Homo sapiens: one gene and its partners. The protein of the gene in region 2 purifies or fractionates together with the protein of the main gene of each other region. This does not show direct contact. Each region holds a gene or a part of one and is shown on either strand. Other genes may lie near its edges.

Evidence for each region. The genes of interacting proteins can lie anywhere in the genome.
Region 1: the proteins of RBFOX1 (region 2) and SDR9C7 purify together in Homo sapiens (affinity purification with mass spectrometry; 2 studies listed by BioGRID and IntAct, with this or other methods). This does not show direct contact.
Region 3: the proteins of RBFOX1 (region 2) and SERPINA12 purify together in Homo sapiens (affinity purification with mass spectrometry; 2 studies listed by BioGRID and IntAct, with this or other methods). This does not show direct contact.

The regions. Positions count from the first base shown.
Region 1 is NC_000012.12:56,931,409-56,938,548, forward strand, and holds the start of SDR9C7 (short-chain dehydrogenase/reductase family 9C member 7), read right to left. Parts: upstream 3,001-7,140; 5' UTR 2,854-3,000; coding exon 2,553-2,853; intron 1-2,552. UniProt on the Homo sapiens protein: Plays a crucial role in the formation of the epidermal permeability barrier.
Region 2 is NC_000016.10:7,512,964-7,520,064, reverse strand, and holds part of RBFOX1 (RNA binding protein fox-1 homolog 1), read right to left. Parts: intron 1,919-7,101; coding exon 1,676-1,918; intron 1-1,675. UniProt on the Homo sapiens protein: RNA-binding protein that regulates alternative splicing events by binding to 5'-UGCAUGU-3' elements. Regulates alternative splicing of tissue-specific exons and of differentially spliced exons during erythropoiesis.
Region 3 is NC_000014.9:94,506,470-94,514,162, forward strand, and holds the start of SERPINA12 (serpin A12 precursor), read right to left. Parts: upstream 3,001-7,693; 5' UTR 2,873-3,000; intron 1-2,872. UniProt on the Homo sapiens protein: Adipokine that modulates insulin action by specifically inhibiting its target protease KLK7 in white adipose tissues.

The DNA of each region.
Region 1 (7,140 bases), on a different chromosome or scaffold from region 2:
ATAATTATGGAAAATGTGATGAGGACTATCCTTGAGATATTTCAATTAGGTTGGTACAAATGGAAAGAAATAATGCTAAGTGTTGTCATTCAACTCTGCAGGGGCCCAGGGTTGAAGAGCTTCAGGTCCAGTCCTGGTTTTACCTCCAGCCTTGAACAAGTCACTTCCCTCTCTGGGCCTCAGGCTCTTCATCAGATTAGACTAAAACAGTTGTTTCCAGGCTGTATTTTGCAAGCCTTCTAGGGGGAGGAAAATGCAGGAGAAGCTCTCCTTTCATTTGTTTTACATATTGGGGTTCTACTGTAAACCCCTCTAAACACTCCTCAAGGACCCCTTCCAGCTCCTTCATGCAAGGATTCCCCAAGTCCTACTGCCTGGTGATTCGCACCACAGCCCCAGCCTCAGCAGCCCCAAGATACTCTGCAGGCGCATCCCACTGTCTCCTGAGGGCAGGTCTCAACACAAACATAAATCCTAGTCCACCCCTCCCTCTAGGGCTGGGGTCCCCACCCAAGCCATGCCCCTACCCAGTCTCCCTGCCTTTCTCCATTCAGGAGCAATGAGAAAGCATGAAAGAACTTCCTCTCCCATCCCCCTACCCACCCCAGTTCCCAGTGTTTCTTAGACCAGGATATTGCCAAGTGGCTTAGGCAAAATAATGGTCCCCCAAAGATGTCCCCATCCTCATTATCTCTGGAACCTGTGAATCTGCTGGATTACATGGGAAAGGGGAATTAAGGTTGCAGGTGGAATGGAGGTTGCTAATTAATTGTCCTTAAAGTTAGGGAGGAAGCTAACACGGGAAATTATCCTGGATTAACCTGGTGAGCCCAATATAATCACAAGTCCTAAGTGGAAAGAGGCAGAAACCGGAGAATCAGAGAGCTTGAGAAAAGTGTGAAAAAGACTGGGCCCAACCTTGCGGGCCTTGAAGATGGAGGTAGCAGGCCAGGAGCCAGGGGATGCCAGCTGCCTCTGGAAGCTGGAAAAGTCGATGAGACGGATTCTCCTCTACAGCCTCTAGAAGGAACACAGCTCTGCTGACTTTGATTTTAGATCAGTGAGGCCTATTTTAGACATTACTCCTCCACAACTACAAGATAATATGTTTGTATTGTCTTCAGACCCCACAGTTGTGTTATTTGTTACAATAGCAACAGGAAACTCACATGCTAAGTGAGGTATTAAGGCAAGTGGCTCAAGGCTGAATGTAGGGAACTGGCTGAGACAGCCTGCTGAAGACAGAGGCTCACTCTTGCTGAATTATTAATTAATTAGCTCACTCAAATCTATTTATTCAGTACCTTACTAGGTGCCAGACATTATTCTAGGTACTAAGGATGTACAGTAAATAAAAGGGACAAAAATCCTTGTCCCCAGGAAGCTTTATTCTAGCAGAGGAAACAGACAATAAATAAGTAAAATCTATTGTACATTGACTAGTGATAAGTGCTAAGGAGAAGAATCAAGCAGGGAGTTACTGTCTAGATCCCCCTGGCTCCAGGGCTCTGTTGCCCTGACCTGCGCATGGGCTCCAGACTAGTTCCTTTAGGAGGGAGGACTTCCTCTAGTCTGCTGCTTCTGCAACTCAGCCATCCTGTTCCTCCTGTTCCTGGGCCCACACCCTGTGTGCTGGAAGTGCATGAGGCAGGTCCCCACACAGTCCTGGGCCAGCCCCAGTCCACAGCTTCCTTTCCCAATAGGAGCAGCCACTGTGACATACATACTTGCCCTGAAGTCAAATCAACACCCACCATGATGTCAAGAAGAGACCAGATCTCTTTCTCCCCTGCCTGACATAGTCAAGGAGACAAACTGCACCCACTCATGGGATCCAGCCTCCTGTCTCATTCCCCCTCCCCCATCCTGATCCCAACAAGAAATGTGTTTGTATTTCCCCAGGAGCTGATGGTTAGGACTGCTGAAACATCAGAGAGGCACATCCTTTTTTTTTCTTTTTTTTCTTTTTGAGAGGGATTCTTGCTCTGTCACGAGGCTGGAGTGCAGTGGCGCAATCTTGGCTCACTGCAACCTCCGCCTCCCGGGTTCAAGTGATTCTCCTGCCTCAGCCTCCTGAGTAGCTGGGACTACAGGCACGTGCCACCACACCCAGGTAATTTTTATACTTTTTAGTAGAGATGGGGTTTCACCATGTTGGCCGGGATGGTCTCGATCTCTTGACCTCATGATCCTCCCACTTCGGCCTTCCAAAGTGCTGGGCTCATAGGCGTGAGCCACCACGCCCAGCCAGGCACGTCCATTTTTAGAGGTTTGGACACACAGAACACATCTTCCCCCCTCGCTTCCTATTGAGACCTCTTTCCCGTTTCTCTGAGTTTCCAGGACAGAAAACTTCCTTGGGAAATCACCCCTTCATGTGAACAGGCCAAACCATGCAGTGGCTTCCAATCAGATTGAGGCAGGGGCCTTTCCCTACATCACCCCTCCCACCCAATCTGGACATCAGGGTCTCTGATACTGTCAGATGCTTCGGGAGAGAGGAAGAGGAAGAAGGAGAAACCAAGAAAGCCAAAGAATGTAATTCGCCCCACCTTGTTCGCCCACTTTGTCCCTCACCCACTGGGCCGCCGCCTTGATGCTTTCGCTCTTGGTGACATCCAGTAGGGTGGTCTGCAGCCGATAGGAGGTATCCCGCTGAAGTTTCTGGGATCCCTCCTCAGTGAAGCAAGCAGCCAGCACCTGCATGCCCCGATCAACCAGCTGTTTGGCCAGCAGGTTCCCGAAGCCAGAGTCACAGCCTGTGATGAAGACGTACTTCTCTGAGAGGTTGCCAACCAGATTGCAGTTCTTGAACCAGCGATACATAAATGAGAGGTCTGTGAGGGCCGCCATAGGGCAAGGGGAATGTGATGGCCAAGAGGGACTGGGCTCAGGAGACAGCAGGGAAGAAGCTGGTCCTCTGAGCCCTAGCAGGCAGTCTGCAGGAAACCACCTGGAAGAAGAACTCTCCTTCCTCCCACAGCTTGCAACAAATCTAGGTCCCTGGGTGAGCCACGCTGTAATTTTTATAGGTGGATGCATCACCACAGCAATTAGCCCAGATGCAAGAAATTCAAGTCCAACCTGAAGCCTTGTCACCTCTGACAGCCCTGGTAGCTGCCTCCCTCTCTCCCCCTGCCCTGATGGGTAAAGCTGCCAAGAATTGGAAATAATCCACTTGTAATGTTGGTGATGAGTGGTGGCTCACCCAGGCGGTGTAAGGCAGGCAAATGAAAGATGAGGACTCACCCCAGACAGCTCCCCTAGAAATCCTGTCCCCACCCTGCCCCCAACCCAGCCTGGGGATTTTGGTCTCCAGGGATCAAAATCATTTGTCGTGAGTGCAGGTATGTAAATAAGTTTATTTTCAGGGAAAATACTCAAGACAAATTTATTAATGTAAAACAAACAACATTGGTTCTGTACCTTCCAAACCCCAAGAGAAACAAGTCGCAGGTCATCAGCTCTCTGGAATTCTTAGGTAAGTCTCCATCATGAGAGAGGATGAAAAGCAATGGATTTCTCCTAGGGTGGATGTACCTCCATTGTCCTGAGGCTAGAGGCAGCAGGGCCCTCCTATAGGGGAGGCTGGCATGTGAAGCTTAGCCACCAGAAAGCAGAAAGACCTGGGGGACTCAGGCCTGACACCCTGTGGGGGTCATACTCAGGTCACCAGTAAGCAGCCCTGGGCAAGATGATGAGGAGGGATCATGAGTTCACTGGGCAGCTGAGGGAATTGTCTGGGCAGAGGCCTTGACTGTAAGAGGGGATGAGATATAGGAGGAGCAGAGAACTGGGGCCAGAGACATAGAAAATTCTCAGGGTCGGGACTTGGAGGAGAAACAGAGATTCTAGGCAATTTAGCAAATAATTTACAGAAAGCTAAGAGGTAAGGTGGTAAAGGAAAGGAAATAAGGAAACCAGAGGTGTGAGTAGTGAGGGGCCACACCCAGAATTGCATAAGATGCAGGGAATGATGCTGGAGCCTCTGTGGTTCTTTGGATCAACATCTAGGGTCACCATTCCTTGGGATGAGCCTGGTCCTAGCTCACACCTTCATGGCTTAGCGAGTCTGACACAGAAATGGGACCACAAAGTTCTCTAGTGTGAAGGGACAAAGGATGTATCTCTGTGATCCACCATTTGCCAAGTCTGACCAGCGTGGAATCACATAAAGCAGGTGTCACCCTGGGAAAGCCCCGCAGGGTTTGGCCGTTCCTTAACAAAGTAGGGGAGGGGGCCAGATTATGAACCCACCCCCAAAGAGCAGACCTAAAGCTTATAGGGGATGGAGGTGGGAAATGGTAGAAAGCAAACCACACCTACTTCATAACCAACCTGAGGCAGAGCACCTCCTATGCGGGATCTGGGAACAATCTCCCAGTCTCTGTCTGCCTCCTGGGTGAATGAACAGAGAAGTCTTGGCTGAAACAGGTCAGACCATGTCACTCAAGACTGAGCAGGTCCGGGGCATTGGGTATCCCAGTCCTTGAGGACACAGGTGAGGTCCAGGAGTTGGGTCTGACTTAGCATAAGGATAACTCAGAACTGCCCCAGCACAGGCCTGGGCCTGACTCAGCACCTCCTGGGCCTCTATGCTGGCAGTGTTCCCCTGGCCTCAAACTAAACACACAGTCCATGAGGGTGGGGGGTGTGAGGGAGGTAGGACCACATAGAAGGCTCTTCTTCCCAGGGCTAGAAATGCCTCCCTCTCTCAGATGACAGCATTCCTTGCCAAGCTGGCCCCTAAGGTCTGATAGGTCAGGTTGGTAGCTGCACTCCCCATCCCCACCCCATGCACACAGGTATCTCAGAGGAGAGGAGCCCTCTCCTCTGCCAGGCCATTTCCCTCCAGTGGGAGAGCATAGACTGCTGAGGTCCAAGACACACCCTGATGAGGTAGACAGGAGGAAGAGCAGGTGTGGGCTCACCCACCCCCAGTTGCTCAAGACCTTCCACAAGTGTGGATTCTTCAGGTTGACAGGTGGGCCATGAAGCTCAGAGCCCAAGGAAGTGGGATGCCATTATCTGTGATTGGGTCTCCCTTCCTAAGCAGCAAAATGTGGTTCTTTCCTCCTAATATCACCAGAGTCCTGAATAACGTCCCAGAAAAAAACTAGAACAGAGGTGAGGGAAGTGAGGTACATGACCCTGAACTTGAGAGCTCCCTCCCACCACTCTATTTCTCACCCCATGAAACAGCACCCCTCCCAAGTGCAATGATGTTAAAGTGAGGGCCGGTCACTGAGTGCTACAAAGAGGTCGCTACAAAGTGCTACAAAGAGGCCTGCCAGTGCCTTTGTGACATGTCATTGCTTCCTTGTCCCTCTGTGCACTCCTGTGACCCCAGGCTACTTGATTCACTCCTGGAAAGGAAACAATTGCCCCTCACCTTGGTGGCAGAAAGGGCTGAGACAGGGCAGGGATAATCCAACTTCTCTCTTCAATTTCCTCCTGAGTTCATCCCTCTTATCCCCAGATCCCCATGAAGGCACCTGCCTCCTCCTCCCTCTTGTTCACAGCCCATGCTCCCCTCAGACTAGAAGGCAACTTGCTGCACATGGCTGCACTTTTTAGCTTTTGCTCTAGAACTAAAGTAACCAGATGGTTTTTTGAGGGTCATGGTTTCAAGAGGGTCAAACATTGGTTCCTGTGTCCTCTGTCCGAATCCCTATTGAGAACACCACTGCCAGCCAATGGTTTTAAGAGGGTCAAACATTGGTTCCTGTGTCCTCTGTCAGAATCCCTATCGAGAACACCACTGCCAGCCAATGCCCCCAGAGCTGGCACCTGAGGTCTAGGGGTCAGGCTGATGGCTGCCCTGTCGCCCCACACCTTATCCACAGGTATATTCAGAGGAGCCCCCATCCACTTCCTCCAGGCCATTTCCATCATGGAGAGAGTGTAATAGACTGGCCAGGTTGATGCACACCTGGGGAAGAAGCAGGAGGCAGAGAAGGTGTGGGCTGTGGATCCTTCCCCTCCTCACACGCTCCCATTGTGTAGACTCCTCAGAATTGGCCAAGAGACTCAAAGGCAACAGGACACCTATGAGCGTTACTGGGTCCCAATCTTTAGAAGAACACCTTGGTTCTTTCCTCCTATGTTGCCAGTCCTGAGTGATATCTCAGTGGAATTCTGTGGAGGGCATGAGGAAGAAGCTGGGATAGGCATCCAAATGGCAAGAGTGCTCCCTCCCACCACACCATTACTCTCCCCAAGACACATCACCTCACCCAGATCACCCAGCTCCACCCAACCATGCACCCCAGTCTTGGATTCACAGGGGCTTAGCCAGCCTTGGAGAGCCCCAGTTGAGCGTGACGTCCATAGGAAGGTAGGCATGTCGCTCATGGGGAGGTAGAGAAGATTGGTGTCTCAGCCAGCTGAGTAGTGAGCGCTCCATGCAGTGGGTCAACAAGGATAGATTCGTACTGCATTTTGCCCAAAGCCTTCTAGATGCTTTTCTGATGCATGTTAAGGATGAGGAAAGATCCTTAAAGTACTAGCACATCCCTTCCCTCCCATTTAGAGCTCTGAATTAGGAGGACAGTGTCTAAGAATTCCAGGCCCCCCAAATGATATGCCTCAAGTCTAATCCATCCATATTCCCCAGAGAGTGCCCCAACCTTCACCCAAGGAACATCCGTTTCACTCTAAGCCCCCTCTGCCTCTCTTTTTGAGATATCTGGACTCATAAATGGAAGGTCTCTACTAACAGCCTAAGAATATGAAAATCAGCTATCTCTAAACCCAGCTGCCCATGAGCCCACTGGTAGCCACTGTCTCTGACTTTAGTTTCCTCTTCAAAATAATGAGGGATTCAGATGAGGCAGTGGTCCCAATTATAGAAAGCTTGGATGCTTCCTTTAGGTGAACAGTTGACCACATGGCACCCTGGGAATGGGGATAAATGTCCTCACTTTTTTGGGGAGGCAGAGTTTGGAGGACAGATTCTCATACTGTTGGAGGCACTAATGATGGACCCAGACTTCTAGACAAGGATTTCTTTATCTCCCCACTGTCCACAGCTCACTCACGGGATATCAGAAACTTCTCCCCATACGTCTCCTTGACCTCGGGGCTGGCCTAGTCCGACAGCTCCTTGAGGTTCTGTAAATGCCTCTCAGAGCCGGCCAT
Region 2 (7,101 bases):
AAATACAAAAAATTAGCCGGACATGGTGGCGGGTGCCTGTAGTCCCAGCTACTCGGGAGACTGAGGCAGGAGAATGGCGTGAACCTGGGAGGTGGAGCTTGCAGTGAGCCGAGATCGCGCCACCGCACTCCAGCCTGGGCAACAGAGTGAGACCCCATCTCAAAAAAACAAAAACAAAAACAAAAACAAAACGTCAAAACTAGCCTCCAAATGAATGAGGTGGCAAGTAGCAAAGTTAGTCAGTGTTTTCTTTTATCACAGGAAATGTATCATGCTTCAAAGCCATAAACTCCTTCACAAATACTTGCTTTCCTGAGGTCTTGGGACAGGACGAAGAGGCAGAATTGCCTTACACTCAAAAAATGTTCCAGACGACAGGATTGGGGTTCCCAAGCTTCTAAAGAATTCTGCAGAAAAAGGTTCCCAAATGCATGTTCCATACAGGTTTTGTGGTATGCATGATTACTTTAGGTGGCACACAAATGAACATTATTTAATTTTATGATAAATATTTTCATTTAGAGTTATATTTGATTAATGATCAAAACACCAGTTTTCATTTACAGTGATGATAAAATGTTTCTGTTTACATGCCTGTTTCTAATCCATTTCATCATTTGTACGCAATAAAATTTACTCTTTATGGCGTATAAAGTCATGTAACCGTCACCATTAAGATACAGGACAGTTCCCTTATTCATCAAAATTCTCTCACCCTGCCTCTTTCTAGCCCCTGCCCTTTGGTCCAGCAATAAAAATGAAGAAACCAGGGACAAACACCGCAACCTGGATGAATCTCAAATGTATTAGGCTAAGGTAAAGAAGCGAGGTTCAGAGCTCTGAGGTATGAATGAGGAGTGGCTGCAAAGGGGCACAAGATTTGTATTTAGGCTGATGGAAATGTTCCGAAATTAGATGCATCCGGCAATCATCGCACAACTCCGTAAATATGCTAAAAATCAGTGAACTGTACACCTAAAAATATACTAATTTTAAGGTATGTAAATTATAATTCCACAAAGACTTTATTTTTGTTTATTTAGAGACAGAGTTTCACTCTGTGACCTAGGCTGGAGTTCAGTGGAGCAATCTTAGCTCACTGCAGCCTCAAACTCCTGGCCCCAAGCCATCCTCCCACCTCAGTCTCCCAAGTAGCTGGGACTACAGGCATGCACCATGACACTCAGCTAAATTTTAAATTTCTTGTAGAGATGAGGTCTCACTTTGTTGCCCAGGCTATTCTCGAACTCCTGTCTTCAAACGACTCTCCCATCTCGGCCTCCCAAAGTGCTGGGATCACAGGCATGAGCCACCACACCCAGCCTCCGTAAGACTTGAAGAAAAATTATCTTACATCAAATTTTTTTTTTCCAAAAAAATGAGATTTCATTGGGATGACATTCTAGAAAGGCAAAACTATAGGAATAGAAAATTGATAAATGTGCCCCTTTACAAATAAATGAAATTAATTAATAATCCGTTGATTTAAATGAACGCTAAGAATGAATGCATGGAAATGAGGTAAACTTCAGGAAGCTGGTATGATGAGGGTGGGCTTAGGGACTGATCTGTTTCCCAGAGTCCCTGGGTAGATGGGGGTGCACCCCCGCTGCCATTACCAGGGCTGGGGGCGCCTCCCCATAACCTCCCACCCGTAGCAAACACGTCCACTTACTGTGGCGGTGCCAGAGACGGTCTGAGCGCTCGTGTCCGCCGGGCTCTGCTCGGAGTGCGTCTGGGCGGGAGGGTACAGGTTTAATGTGTGCTCGGGAACCGTGGTCTGGCCTGTGTACTCTGGCGCGGGGTGGGGATGAGGGGCCGTGTATTCCGCGGGGATACCGTTCTGCGGGGGAGCAAACTGGGCCGAAGCGTAAGGCTGAGCCATTGTGTCAGGGGCAGCGGCTGCTTCCTGATTACCCTGAAAAATCAAAAAGGTGCAGAGAGGGAGAGAACGTCATGAGGAGCCACCATGCAGAAACCTTCCTCCCAGATCCCAGGACGATCGTGCCCCGCGTACTTTCTAGGGGTCACCATGGTGCCACCAGCCTGAGATGGACCAATCTCAGGTCATCTTCACCAGACCCTATAAGGAAACAGTAACCATCACTTCTCCCCATTTTACAGATGCAGAAACCGAGGCTTGGAAAGATAAAGATAAAGTCGCTTTTTCCAAGCCACCCAGCCTAATATTCAAAGACATGAGGGTCTGTGGCTTTACTAGATTGATTTTTTTTTTTTTTTGGCAGATCCTTTTTATTTCATTCCCATTTTGGAAGCTGTGAGCATTTAGTTGTCTGCAGTGACAGCAGAACCTTGATTTGATACTTAAAGTGCCAAGAGAGACTAAATTGAACGTGTGTGTTCTTGAGAGGAGAGACAATTTATGTAAGCATTTGAATTTAATCAAAGTTTTATGTGACTTGGCTCACATAATGGGAATAGGGAGTATCCTTTTAATGGTCCCAGTGTCTGTGTGGTTGTGTGTTATGTTGTGTGTGTGTGTGTGTGTGTGTCTGTGTGTGTGTATGCGTGTATGATGTCCCCAGTGCCAAAATGAAGCAGCTGATACAAATTCAGGGCCTAATTTGGACAAAGACTGTCCTCTCTGACATCCCCATTTTAAGCATTTCTGAAAAATATTGGATTTAACTCTCAGTCTCATTAGTCAATGCCTCTCCCTCCCTGCCTTATTTTTTTATGAGCACAGAGTATTATATAACAATTCATTCTTCAGATCTAGGCAAAACAGGCAGTGTGACAATTACAGCCAACTCAGAAGAATTTTAAAAACACACACAACAAAAACCTGAATACAAATGCTTCCATTTCAGGAAACAGCTCTCTCTCTTTACCTCCTCCTCCACAGTTCTACCACAACACACACACACACACACACACACACACACACACACACACACACACACACGGCATAAGAAATTGTAACCCAAAGGTCTAAACTTTCCATGGTCTCAGGAGATGGGATCACACAGTCAGAAAGACAGAGCGAGGAAAAAAACTTAGCAATTAGGCACACCAAATAGCTGCCTCTCCTATTGTCTGTGGTCAATTAGATGTGACTTTGGCCCTCATATAATGATACTAGGGCAAAAATATCAGAATTTCTCCTTATCTCTTCAGTACTTGCCACCAACATCCGAAATCCTCTTTCTCTAAAGCAATTTGAGTGCAGCAAAAACATGATGACAGAAAGAAGAGAGGAAAAAAAAAAAGTTTGTTCTCAGAGCAGCACACGGAGCTGGTGCATTTGTTTAGAAGGGACCTTAATTAGAATGTTAAAGATGACACTTGGAAGAGAACTAAGCTTAGGATAAGTTTAAACATTTTACAAGTAAATCATTCCCATCAGGCTCTTCCCTCCTCCAGACAAATTTCGCCAAATGTCTGTGCCACTGGAAACAAAAGGGCACGAGCATTTCTTTCTCTTTCTAACATTTTCCCATAGCACTGGGGCCATGGAGGGTGTGCCTATGTTGAGGCTGAGTTGCTATCCATGAGCAGTTAACCTTGTCCATCCTTGGGAAGCCAAAGAAGACATGCAGTGATACTGCTGGTCTGTCTCCACTCCTGTTTCTTCAACAAAGCCCCAGTTTCCTTTTGGGGGACAGTCCCACTTTCAGCCTGTATGGTGCAGATACAGTTGAACCCAGCTCCCAGTCGCTACGAGATGAGCCATAGGACATCAGCCTGGCCAATCAGATGGTCCCACTGAGATAGTCCCATGGATTTGCGTTCATGCACATCTATCTAGTGAGTCCGTTAGTGCGTTAAGCCCTAGTCACACCACTGAGTCCCAGTCACCCTGGGATTTTGCTGTAGTTTTGGGGAAGAAGTTCTCTTTCCACGGTGATGGGCAGCTGTAAAAACATCATAAGCCTGGAGCTGCCAAGAACTGACACTTAGGGTGGGCATGTTGCCTCATGCCTGTAATTCCAGCACTTTGGGAGGCCAAGGTGGGTGGATCACTTGAGGTCAGGAGTTCGAGACCAGACTGGGCAACATGGTGAAACCCTGCCTCTACTAAAAATACAAAAATTAGCCGGGCATGGTGGCACATGCCTGTAATCTTAGCTACTCCGGAGACTGAGGCAGGAGAACCACTTGAATGTGGGAGGTGGAAGTTGCAGTGAGCTGAGAGTGCACCACTGCACTCCAGCCTGGGCCACAGAGCAAGATTCCGTCTCAACAACAACAACAACAACAACAACAACGAACTGCCACTTGAAGGGGACCTCCCTACACGTGAGGCCAACCTAGAGGAAAATGAAGAGAAGAAACTGAGGAACAGAGAGGTTTCTACTGAGTCCCAGTGACGTCATTTGAAGTGTTGAATCCAGCTTTACCCGCAGTCAGCACCATCCCTGTTTGTTGTAGTTACACAAGTCAGTAAATGTCCCATATTTTAACAGCTTTACTAAGATACCATTAACATAAAAATTATACATGTAAGGTGTATAACTTGATGTTTTGACATATGTATACATTGTGAAGTGACCACATTCCAGGTAATTAGCATATCCATCACTTCTACATGATCTCCATTTGTGTGTGTGTGTGTGTGTGTGTGTATGTGTGTGTGGAGAGATTTAATTTAAGATCTATCCTCTTAGCACACTTCCAGTATATAATACAGTATTTTTAACTCTTGTTTCCATGCTGTACTTAAATCTCCAGAATGTATCTGTCTTGCAAAACTGACACTTTGTACCCTTTGTCTCATTTTTTAAGCTACTTTTTCTGTTACTTACAACCAAAAGGGTCTTGACTAATTAAAAAAAAAAAAAAACTTCTGCTGTTTTATAACTAAACTAGCATCTTTTCTTTTTCTGGGCTGTTCAAGGAACATATCCTTCTGTACAGAAATTTCATAGCGATGCCACTTCTCTATGGGTGATGAAAAGCCCCAGAAATGTTGGGATCTTGGGAATCATCTGATGAGAAATTCACTGTGCCAGAGGCAGCTTCTGCTCAAAGATCTGTTTCTGCCTCCCCAACCTTCTACCTGGCCCATCTCTGAAGTGAAAGGTAGACTTGTGTAAACTCTTACAGGGAAGCACAGAATAACCACATAAGCAGTGGTACAGACAATGATCATATGAAGACAAAGGTTTCCCTCCTCCACCTCCAGCAGAAGATACTTTCACCAGGAACATATATAACCCTGGGGCTTTTCATCAGTGCAGAGCAAGCTCAGGAAAAGTGGCCCATTCCTACTAGTTCTTGCAAAAGAGCTAAGGCTCCTTGTAGACTTCGAGCTATCTCTGTATTGAAGAGAGAAGGGTCATGCCTTCCAGAAGCTTATGGTCAGTTAAGGGAGAAGAGCTCCATCCTCTCAACCCCATCAAGTCTTCACATTTACTGCCCCTCAGCTTGGAAAGCCTCACCTACCCCCTTGCCCAACTAGTCCTTACTCTTCCTTCAGTCCGCATCAAGAGTCCCTCCTCCAGCAGGCTTTCCTTGATGCTGAAACCTGGTCAGTTGCCCATCCCCTCTGCTCCACTGCAGCTGGTGGCCACAGCTCACACAGCACCAAGCACTGCCACAGCCTGATTATTTGTCTGTGAGCTCCCTGAAAACAGGACACTGTGCCACATTCCCTGTCCCATCTCCATGGTCCAACAGCATACTAGCTGCAAAGTGGACATTTATAAATGTTTGCCAAGTGAATATGTGCTGGAAAAATGACCTCTGGGCTCTGTAAAGCCTAGTCTGGCAGCAGGAGATAGGGTAGGGGGATGAAGAGAGGACCTAGCAAACGACTCATGAGGCAAACCTGGCCCAAATTTTGTTTTTGTAAATAAAGTTTTATTGGAACACACCCATGCTCATTTGTTTACTGTCTGTAGCCGCTTTTGTACTACAAAGGCAGAGTTGGATAGCTGTGACAGAGACTGCCCAGCCCACCAAGACTGAATGATCTATCATCTGGTCCTTTGTGGAAAATGTTTTCTAATAGCTGTGGCAGAATGTCATTAGATATGGGATCACCAGTTAAGAAGCCATTATTGCATAAGTAGTTTGGGCAGGAAATAAAGCAGGCAGTGAAGTAGAAAGAGAGAGAAAGGGCCTGTATACTCTCCAAACCAAAGAGGGGTGATAGCTAGACTTGGAGACTGGCAATATTGAAAATGGTGCAAAAACAGTGGGTCAGAATCTTTTGGGGAATTTACTTTCCATCCGCAGATCTTTGACCTGTAAACTCACAGGCACACAGGCTTTAAATCTGCATAAGTGGGCTTATGAGCAGAAGGTTCATGATGGCCTCAGACTTCCATGAAAAGCAGCCCCTTCTCCTCACTGGTCCTCAGAAGAAAACCTAATAGGTGGCAGGCACTGTGCTGGGCGCCTCATACCGGTAGTTCTTACAGAGGTGTGATTGCTCCCCACAGGACATTAGGCAATGACTGGAGACAGTTTTGTCACAAATGAGGGAGGATGTGCTACTGCCATCTAGTGGGTGGAGGCCAGGAATGCTGCTAAACATCTTACAGAGTATACGACTACCTTGAACCACAAAAGACTGTCCCGCCCCAAATGTTAATAGTGCCAAGGTCCAGAATCCCTACTTTTCATGCAATGCATCTCTAATCTCAATTTACCTTGTCATCAAAGATGCTGCAGACCAAAGCTGGGAAATAATTATTCGAGGCCACAGTCACAGGTAGTTGTTAGGGAAGCCAAGAGTTAAACCAAGGCATTTCTCATCTAGCAAGAGAATCACCTGGTGGGGAGTTCACTTCATTCATTCATTCATTCATTCATTATTTTTATTTTTATTTTTTTGACACAGAGTTTTGCTCCTGTTACCCAAGCTGGAGTGCAATGGTAGGCTCTCGGCTCACTGCAACCTCCGCCTCCGAGGTTCAAGTGATTCTCCTGCCTCAGCCTCCTGAGTAGCTAGGATTACAGGCACCCGCCATGATGACTGGCTAATTTTTTGTATTTTTAGTAGAGACGGCGTTTTACTGTTGGCCAGGCTGGTCCCGAACTGCTGGCCTCAAGTGATCCATCTGCCTTGTCCTCCCAAAGTGCTGGGATTACAGACATGAGCCACCGCGCCTGTCCACTTCCCATTTTTAAATA
Region 3 (7,693 bases), on a different chromosome or scaffold from region 2:
GATGGGGCACTCTTAAGCTGGGTTTTGAAGGATAAGTAGGTGTTCTCTAGGAGAAAACTGAGAGCAAGAGAAGTATATCAAGGATTTTGCATCCTGGAGAAAGTGAGTGAACAATCTAATGCCTCCAGAAATTGTATATGTGACTTTGGGCTTCTGGTTCTTTAATTGCAAAATGGGAATAACCTATTTCTAAAGCAGTTGTTTCCATCCTGGGAGTGCATTACAATCATCCAGGAGCTTTAGAAATACCTATTTTCAGAACATTCCTCTAGAGATTTTGAGTTAGTTGATGCAGGATAAATCCTGGGTGAGGGTGCCTTTAAGAACTTCTCTCCAGGGGATTTAATGAGTACTCAAGGTTGAGAATCCCACTCCAAAGCAAGTGATTCCCACCTGATGATTCCCAGGTCTTTTAAAGCATTCAGCCACCAGGTATCAAGATGGCTGTAAAGCCACAGTATTAAGGTATTGGAACAGAGACAGACAAGCTGACCAATGGAACAGACTAGAGAATCCAACAGAGCCACACAGGAAGTCACCTGATATGTGACAAGGGCATCGCTACAGTTCAAAGGAAAGGATGATCCTTTCAATGAATGATGAAAACAACAACAACAACAACAAAACACCAGTGGATGTCCATACAGGAAAAATATAAATAGTGACTATTTTACTCAACATACAAAAATTAATTTGAGAAGTCACAGACCTAAATGTGAAAGGTATTAGATTGGACTATATGAAACTATTGGTCTTTAATATTTTTTAACCTCAAAACCCACAAGAATCAAAATGATAAAGCTTCTAGAAGAAAATATATTAATAGTAGACAATCTTTGTGACCATGAGATAGGCAGAAAGTATTAACCATTTTTACAAAATGATAAATGGAACTTCATTAACATTAAGAGCCTTGTTCCTCTAAAATTACCTAGGACAGTACAAAGGCAAGTCACAAGCTGGGAGTGGTACGTGTAATGTCTGTGTCTGATAAAAGGCTCATGCCTGTTTTTAAGCACTTCTACAAATCGACTGAAAAAAGACAACAACTTAAAAACTAAGCAAAGACATGAACAAATACTTCACAAAAGAAGATATCCAAATGGCCAATAAGCAGCTGAAAAGGTGCTCGACATCATTAATCATCAGAAACATGCAAAACAAAACTACAAGAAGAACTCACTACACACCCACTAGAATAGCTCAGATTAAAAGGACCAGCCACACGAGGACGTGGAGCAAGTGGAACTCTCTTATATTGCGGGTGGGTGTGCAAACCGACACCAACGTGTTGATTGGAAAATTGCTTGGCAGGATCTATAAAAGGTAAACATATGCTTACCCTTTGACCCATTCATTGTACCTCAGGGTATATGCCCAACAGGAAATGAGTGCTTGTGGGTTTACCAAGACATGTACTGCAATGTCCATAGCAGCTTTATGTGATAGACCTAAAGTGGAAACAACCCAGATGTCCATTTATAGTAGAGAAGGGAGAGAGAGAAAGAGATTCCTGGCCACCATCCCAGATCATACTTTGCATTTCCCTGGGTGTCCCCACTCTTCTTTGGTTTCCACAGGATCCCCAGTTGATGCTTGTGACAGACAGCTATGGGAGCCAGTGACCAAGAGTGTGAAACACTGCAAAGCCCAAATCCCACTAGAACAAATTATACTGTACCTCCAAGCAATAAGGCAAAGACTGAGTAAATGCAATGTATTTTCAGTCATTGAATTCAACTCCAATTGGGGAGCTTAATCAATAAATGATTTAAAATTAATAATAATTGATTTTGAAAGAAAATATTTTTAAGCAATCTCCGGTAAGATCCTAGGTTACCCTAAAAAGCTTCTAGTACAAAATGTTGAAAATCTTTCCACACAAAAATCTAAACAAGTAAGAAATAAAAGGAGAGAAATAGAAAATTTAGAAAATTTTTTTTTAATGGGAAGCATTCTGTAAATAGTAAAAAATTCAAGATGGCATTTCAGAACATTCGAGAAAAGGTGAACAATTCCATAAATGCTATTAGGAAACAAACAAATCATTTCAAAAATAAAATTACAAGTGTTGGAATAAAACCTTTTCATAATGTTAGAGTGAAAAAGAACTTCCTAAGTGTGATACACAAGCCAGAAACCATGTAGGAAAAGATGGCATATATGGATATACCATCTTTTTGCAACGTGTTAAAACTCTACAGAATATGTAAAATTTGGAATCACAAATTGGAACATGTGTACAAGATAGAGAGCTAATGTTCTTAACAATTAAGAGTTCTTATATATATCAATAAGTAACCACATGTGTTTCTCAATCAGCAAAAAGTAAAAAATTTGGGTAAATATGCATTGAAACATTGTGGGTGGGGGCCAGCTTTGATTTTCCTCATCTTATTTTCTTCTTTGTCTTTGTCTCTGCAGAACAGGGTACTTCCATGCACATATTAGTAGATACGGTTATTCATAGACATTATGTATTTTTCATACCAACTTTGCAAGTTTGGGTGCTGCTAGACCCATTTTTACACATGAGAAATCTGAGTTTCCTATAGCTGCACAGTTAGCAGATTCAGGACTCAAAAATCAGGTCTTCTGGTTCTGAATCCCTTTTTCCATGGATAGCTTTCTGGTAGACCATAAATGAAAGCATGGCCACAGCATCTTGGCAGCCAGCACAGACCCATGGAACTCTTGGCCAGACTGGTGATCCAGCCCTAGGGCTAGGCATGAGAAGGACGCAGAATGTCTGTCTATTTGAGTGATCACCTTGGCCCTTGGTTGTCTTCTCTAAGACAGAGAAACAGACAACACACACACACACACACACACACACACACACACACACACACACACTGCCCCTTGGACTAACCTCACCTCCCCAGTTTCTCCTTTCCCCTCAGGTCAGTCTTCCTTGGCCTTCCCCAGTTGTTGCTGATCCCAGCCTCCTAGTCCTTTTTCGGTCCTGGTCCTGCAGCCTTCAGGTTCCAGGTATGTTCCTCTAGGCTCCCAGCCCCACAAGCCTTATCTACAAACTGGGTGGACTTCTGCCCAACGACCTACTAAGCCTGCCTCTGCCACCTCCACCCCTTTCCCAGGATCAGCCTGGCCAACTGGCCCTGCCAAGTGTCTCACTCAGAGAGCAATGCGTCTGGGAGTTCCCTTCCTCACCCCTTGGGAAAGATCAGGCCTACTTTTTCTCTCCCATCCCAAATAGCAAGGGGCACTGTGCTAGGTACACCCAAGGTGCTCTGTAGATTCACTGATGAGGGCCTGGCTTGCTAGGACCTGAGTGTTTGGCACCCAGTAAACCTCATAAAAGTGAGTGCACCAGAAACCAGAGTGACACACGCCATCCCCTCCCAGCTCCACAGCCCTGATCCCTGTGATCATCTTTGAGCAGAATCGTCCACCCCAGATTCCTTCCCTGGGACAGGACAGGAATGGGTGTGGGCACCCTGGCACTGCTATAGAATACCAGCCGCCTGGCACAGATGTTCACATGGCCCTCTCTCACCTCCCAGGTGCAGCCTGGGAGCAGGCAGCCCATCCATCCAACCCCACCCCACTCCCGAGCTCTGGGACGTCTCAGGGCCTGGGCCTGTGGTCTGGGTACCAGACATAGGTGACTCATAATGCACCTGGTGGCTGGAGAAGCCATCCCTTCCTCTGGTTCTCAGTGTACTCACCTGTACAATGGGCAATAGGAGACTGCATTGGATCTGTGGTTGCCTGAGAGAGCCAAACTATTGGAAGTCATGCTGTCAATCAATTTCACTTAAAATAATATAGACCCAAGTCCGTGCTAAATGTCATTCAAGCCAGATCTAGATGCTGGTAGAAGAGCAGAACAACAGAGGATATAAAAAAAGAGCATTTGCTCAACATTACTAACCATCAGGGAAATGTAAATGAAAACCACAATGAGATACCACCTTACTCTTACAAGATGGCCATAATTAAAAAGTAAAAAATAAAAATAAAAAAAATAGATGTTGGCATGAATGTGGTGAAAGGGAACACTTTTACACTGCTGGTGGGAATGTAAATTACTACAACCCCTATGGAAAACAGTATGGAGATTCCTTAAGGAACTAAAAGGAGAGCTACCATTTCATCCAGCAATCCCACTACTGGGTATCTACCCAGAGGAAAAGAAATCATTATATGAAAAAGACACATGCACACACATGTTGCGTAATTTCAAAGATATGGAACCAACCTAAGTGCCCATCAAACAATAAATCCATAAAGAAAATGTGGTATATACACACCATGGAATACCACTCAGCCATAAAAAGGAATGAAATAATGTCCTTTACAGCAATTTGGATGGAGGTGGAGGCCATTATTCTAACTAAAGTAACTCGGGAATGGAAAACCAAATATTGCATGTTCTTGCCCATAAGTGGGAGCTAAGCTGTGAGCACAGGTATAAGAATGATATAATGGACTTTGGGGACTCAGGGAAGAAGGTTGGGAGGGGGTGGTGAGGTATAAAAAACTACATATTGGGTACAGTGTACACTGTTCAGGTGATGGGTGCACTAAAACTCAGAAATCACCGCTAAATAACTTAATCCAAGTAACCAAAAACCACCTGTACCCCAAAAACTCTTGAAATTTAAAAAGAGCATTTCAGAAAAATATTTATGGAAGGAAAATCGCAAACTGCAAAAAAGCCCATAATTTAATGTTTTTCTGCATTTTCAGGTAGCCCACCAATTTGATTTCAGCAGCATGTGTACTTCTGTGCACACCTCATGTACACACACACACACACACATATATATATACACACACACATTTAATTCTTACAAGTCTGTGAGGGACCATTGTCACACTATACAGATGAGAAAGCTGAGGTTTGGGATAGTGAGTCATCTGTCAAATGTCACACGGTTATTTAATGGATGTGCAGCTTCATAAGAATTTCTTAATATAAAAGCAGAAAAAAAATATGTGGATACAACTAGTGCAGAAACTTTGGGAGAAATCAAGGAAATTCTGGAACTGTCTGCATGCCTCACATAAGGCTGCGGCTGTTAAATGCTGGCTCCTGGGATGGCTCACTCTAGTATTTGTCGGGTTGGTTCGTGCAGCCCAGAACAGGAACCGACACCACCTTCAGTTTTCCATCTCTGAGCCATTCGACTTCTCCTTTGGAAGGTGTCCCACCCACCTCTCTCACCTGCCTTTCCCTCATCCTCCTTTCCTGCTTCCTTCCAAAGAGGCAGAACTTGAGTTGAAAAGCAGATTGAATGTCTATAATGTACCAGGCAGCAAGCCAGGTGTGGGGGAGAGAGAAATAACACAAGTCCTCATAAGCTCACAGACCAGGGAAGGGACAGACACTGGGGGGTCACGCCTGTACTCCTAGCACTTTGGGAGGCCAAGGCAGGTGGATTGCTTGAGGTCAGGAGTTTGAGACCAGCCTGGCCAATATGGTAAAACCCCATCTCTATTAAAAATACAAAAATTAGCTGGGAGTGGTGTCTCGCACCAGTGGTCCCAGCTACTCGGGAGGCTGAGGCATGAGAATTGCTTGAGCCCAGGAGGCAGAGGTTGCAGTGAGCTGAGATTGCACCACTGCACTTCAGCCTGGGTGACAGTGATACTCCATCTCAAAAACAAAACAAAACAAAACAAGAGTTCTGTGGAGGGGTGAGTTCAACACCACTTGCACCCACGAGAGGCAGATATTGAATCAAATCAAGGCCTCCAAACAAAAAAAGCCGCAGCTCCATCCCCCACCCACTCACGTGTCCCCTCTCAGGGGGCATTGTGACATTGAGGCGGAGCACAGGTCCTACAGCCACAGCAAGCTGGGCCACCTCACCCAGGTCACCTCACTTCTCTGTGCCTCAGTATTTCCATCTGCCCAATGGGACTACTGAAGTACCTGCTTTGTTCATTTCATCAGATTGTTAGCAGTGCTATCAAATGCAAAGGCCCATGTGGAGAGGATCAATTAAAACTAATTAGTAGTAATCATAGCAATAGTTATAATAGTTGTTAATAAAATAGTAATTAATTACTATTAATGGGCATTACTAATGATAAACATGATGACAGGGAGCTGATTCTGTTCATCCAAGTCACACTCTGCTCACCATTCTCATCCTCCAGCATCAAGAGTGAGGGTGTTGTGTGCCTAACACTGCTGGAGCCCAGGAGGACAATTCTTGCCTCTCAAATGAAACATGTGTTATCAAGAATGGATCAGACAGCAAAAATCAAATGTTAAGGATGGCTGAGATCCTTGAAATTCAGGAGGAATTTGGATGGGTAGTCAGTAGTTACCCAAATAGGGTTATCTGTTCACATCTAACTACTGACTATTTTGTGTGCTATTATATAGTTAAGGATGGGAAAAGCTCATTTCTGAGCTTTCAGAAATTTGGGAAAACAGAGTGGTTGTCTACTTAAGACCAAGGAAAGGGCCAAGTCACAGAGAAGACGTAGTGAAGAAATACGCAAGCCCACACATCTATTCTCCAAGAATGTTCCACACATTCCCCAGTGGGTTCTATTACCAGCTCAAGCCACTAGCATAAGAATGAGGAGTGATACCGAGGGTAGCTCTGGAAGCAGCCATCCCACGGCTCACCATGCAGGTGGAAGAAGGGAAGTTTCCCTTCAGTCATCCAGGTTTTCAGTTTTCCTTCCAGGATAAGCGAAAGCAGGCTGATAGAAACCAAGTGTGGGCTGGTAAGCAGGTCACCCTTATCTGCAAGGGCATACTCTGAGTTGCCACGGCTTGTTTGCTGATACCAGACAGTCCTCTTACAGAGAACTGCCTTTATAATCCAAGACAAAATGAAGGACAATTACTTTCAGAGAGAGAATACAAAGATGCAAATGGCTGATATCAGATATCTCTAAGCAGTACAAACCAAGAAACAGTAGAGACTCAAGAATCTGAAGCAGAGCGGGAGGACCTGAGAGCGGGAAAAGACTATAGAGAATTCTATGTAGAGACAGAAAATCTGGATTCAGGCTCCATGGCTGCTGTTTCCCAGCCGTGCAACCCTCCTCAAGTTACTTCATCTTTCAGGATCTTGATTTCCTCACCCATAAAACTGAGGAAATGTTTGAGAAATCCATTGGGAGGATAAATTAAAGTAGTGACTGTAAAAGGTGTGGTGTAAACCATAACCGCCCATGCACAGGCTGCTCTGTGACTTCGGAATTTTGCAGGGGTCCCCAAGGGCTGGACCAATGGCTTTCATTTTCCTCCACTCTGGGATGAATTTTTAAAAAATTACTGGGTGCTCAGCTTGAAATCTGCGGTGTTGGGATGAAAACCTAAACACCATACAACTGCTATTGTCTTCCAGTGGTGTTTCCAAATGCCAGAATAACCTGACCAGTGGGACTTCAGCCAATCAGCCCCTCTGCATCACTTCCCAAGACCAAAAATGCTTTCCCTCCTTGGATGAACAGCCTGGAGGTTGCTCCAGTGGCTCCCTGGGGACCTCACAGTCCGAGAAGGGGTATGGGTTTGAGAAGGGCAGCATGGTGCGGGCCTAGACTCCCAAGGCCACCCCACATCTCAGCACATCTATGTCTTAACCTACTCACCTGTGAAATTAGGGCAATCATACCTCCCCACTGTCGAGAGGCTGAGATAATTCGTGCAAAGCCCTGGGACAGTGCCTGGACTGTGCCGCTTAGGTACTCCATGGCGGCT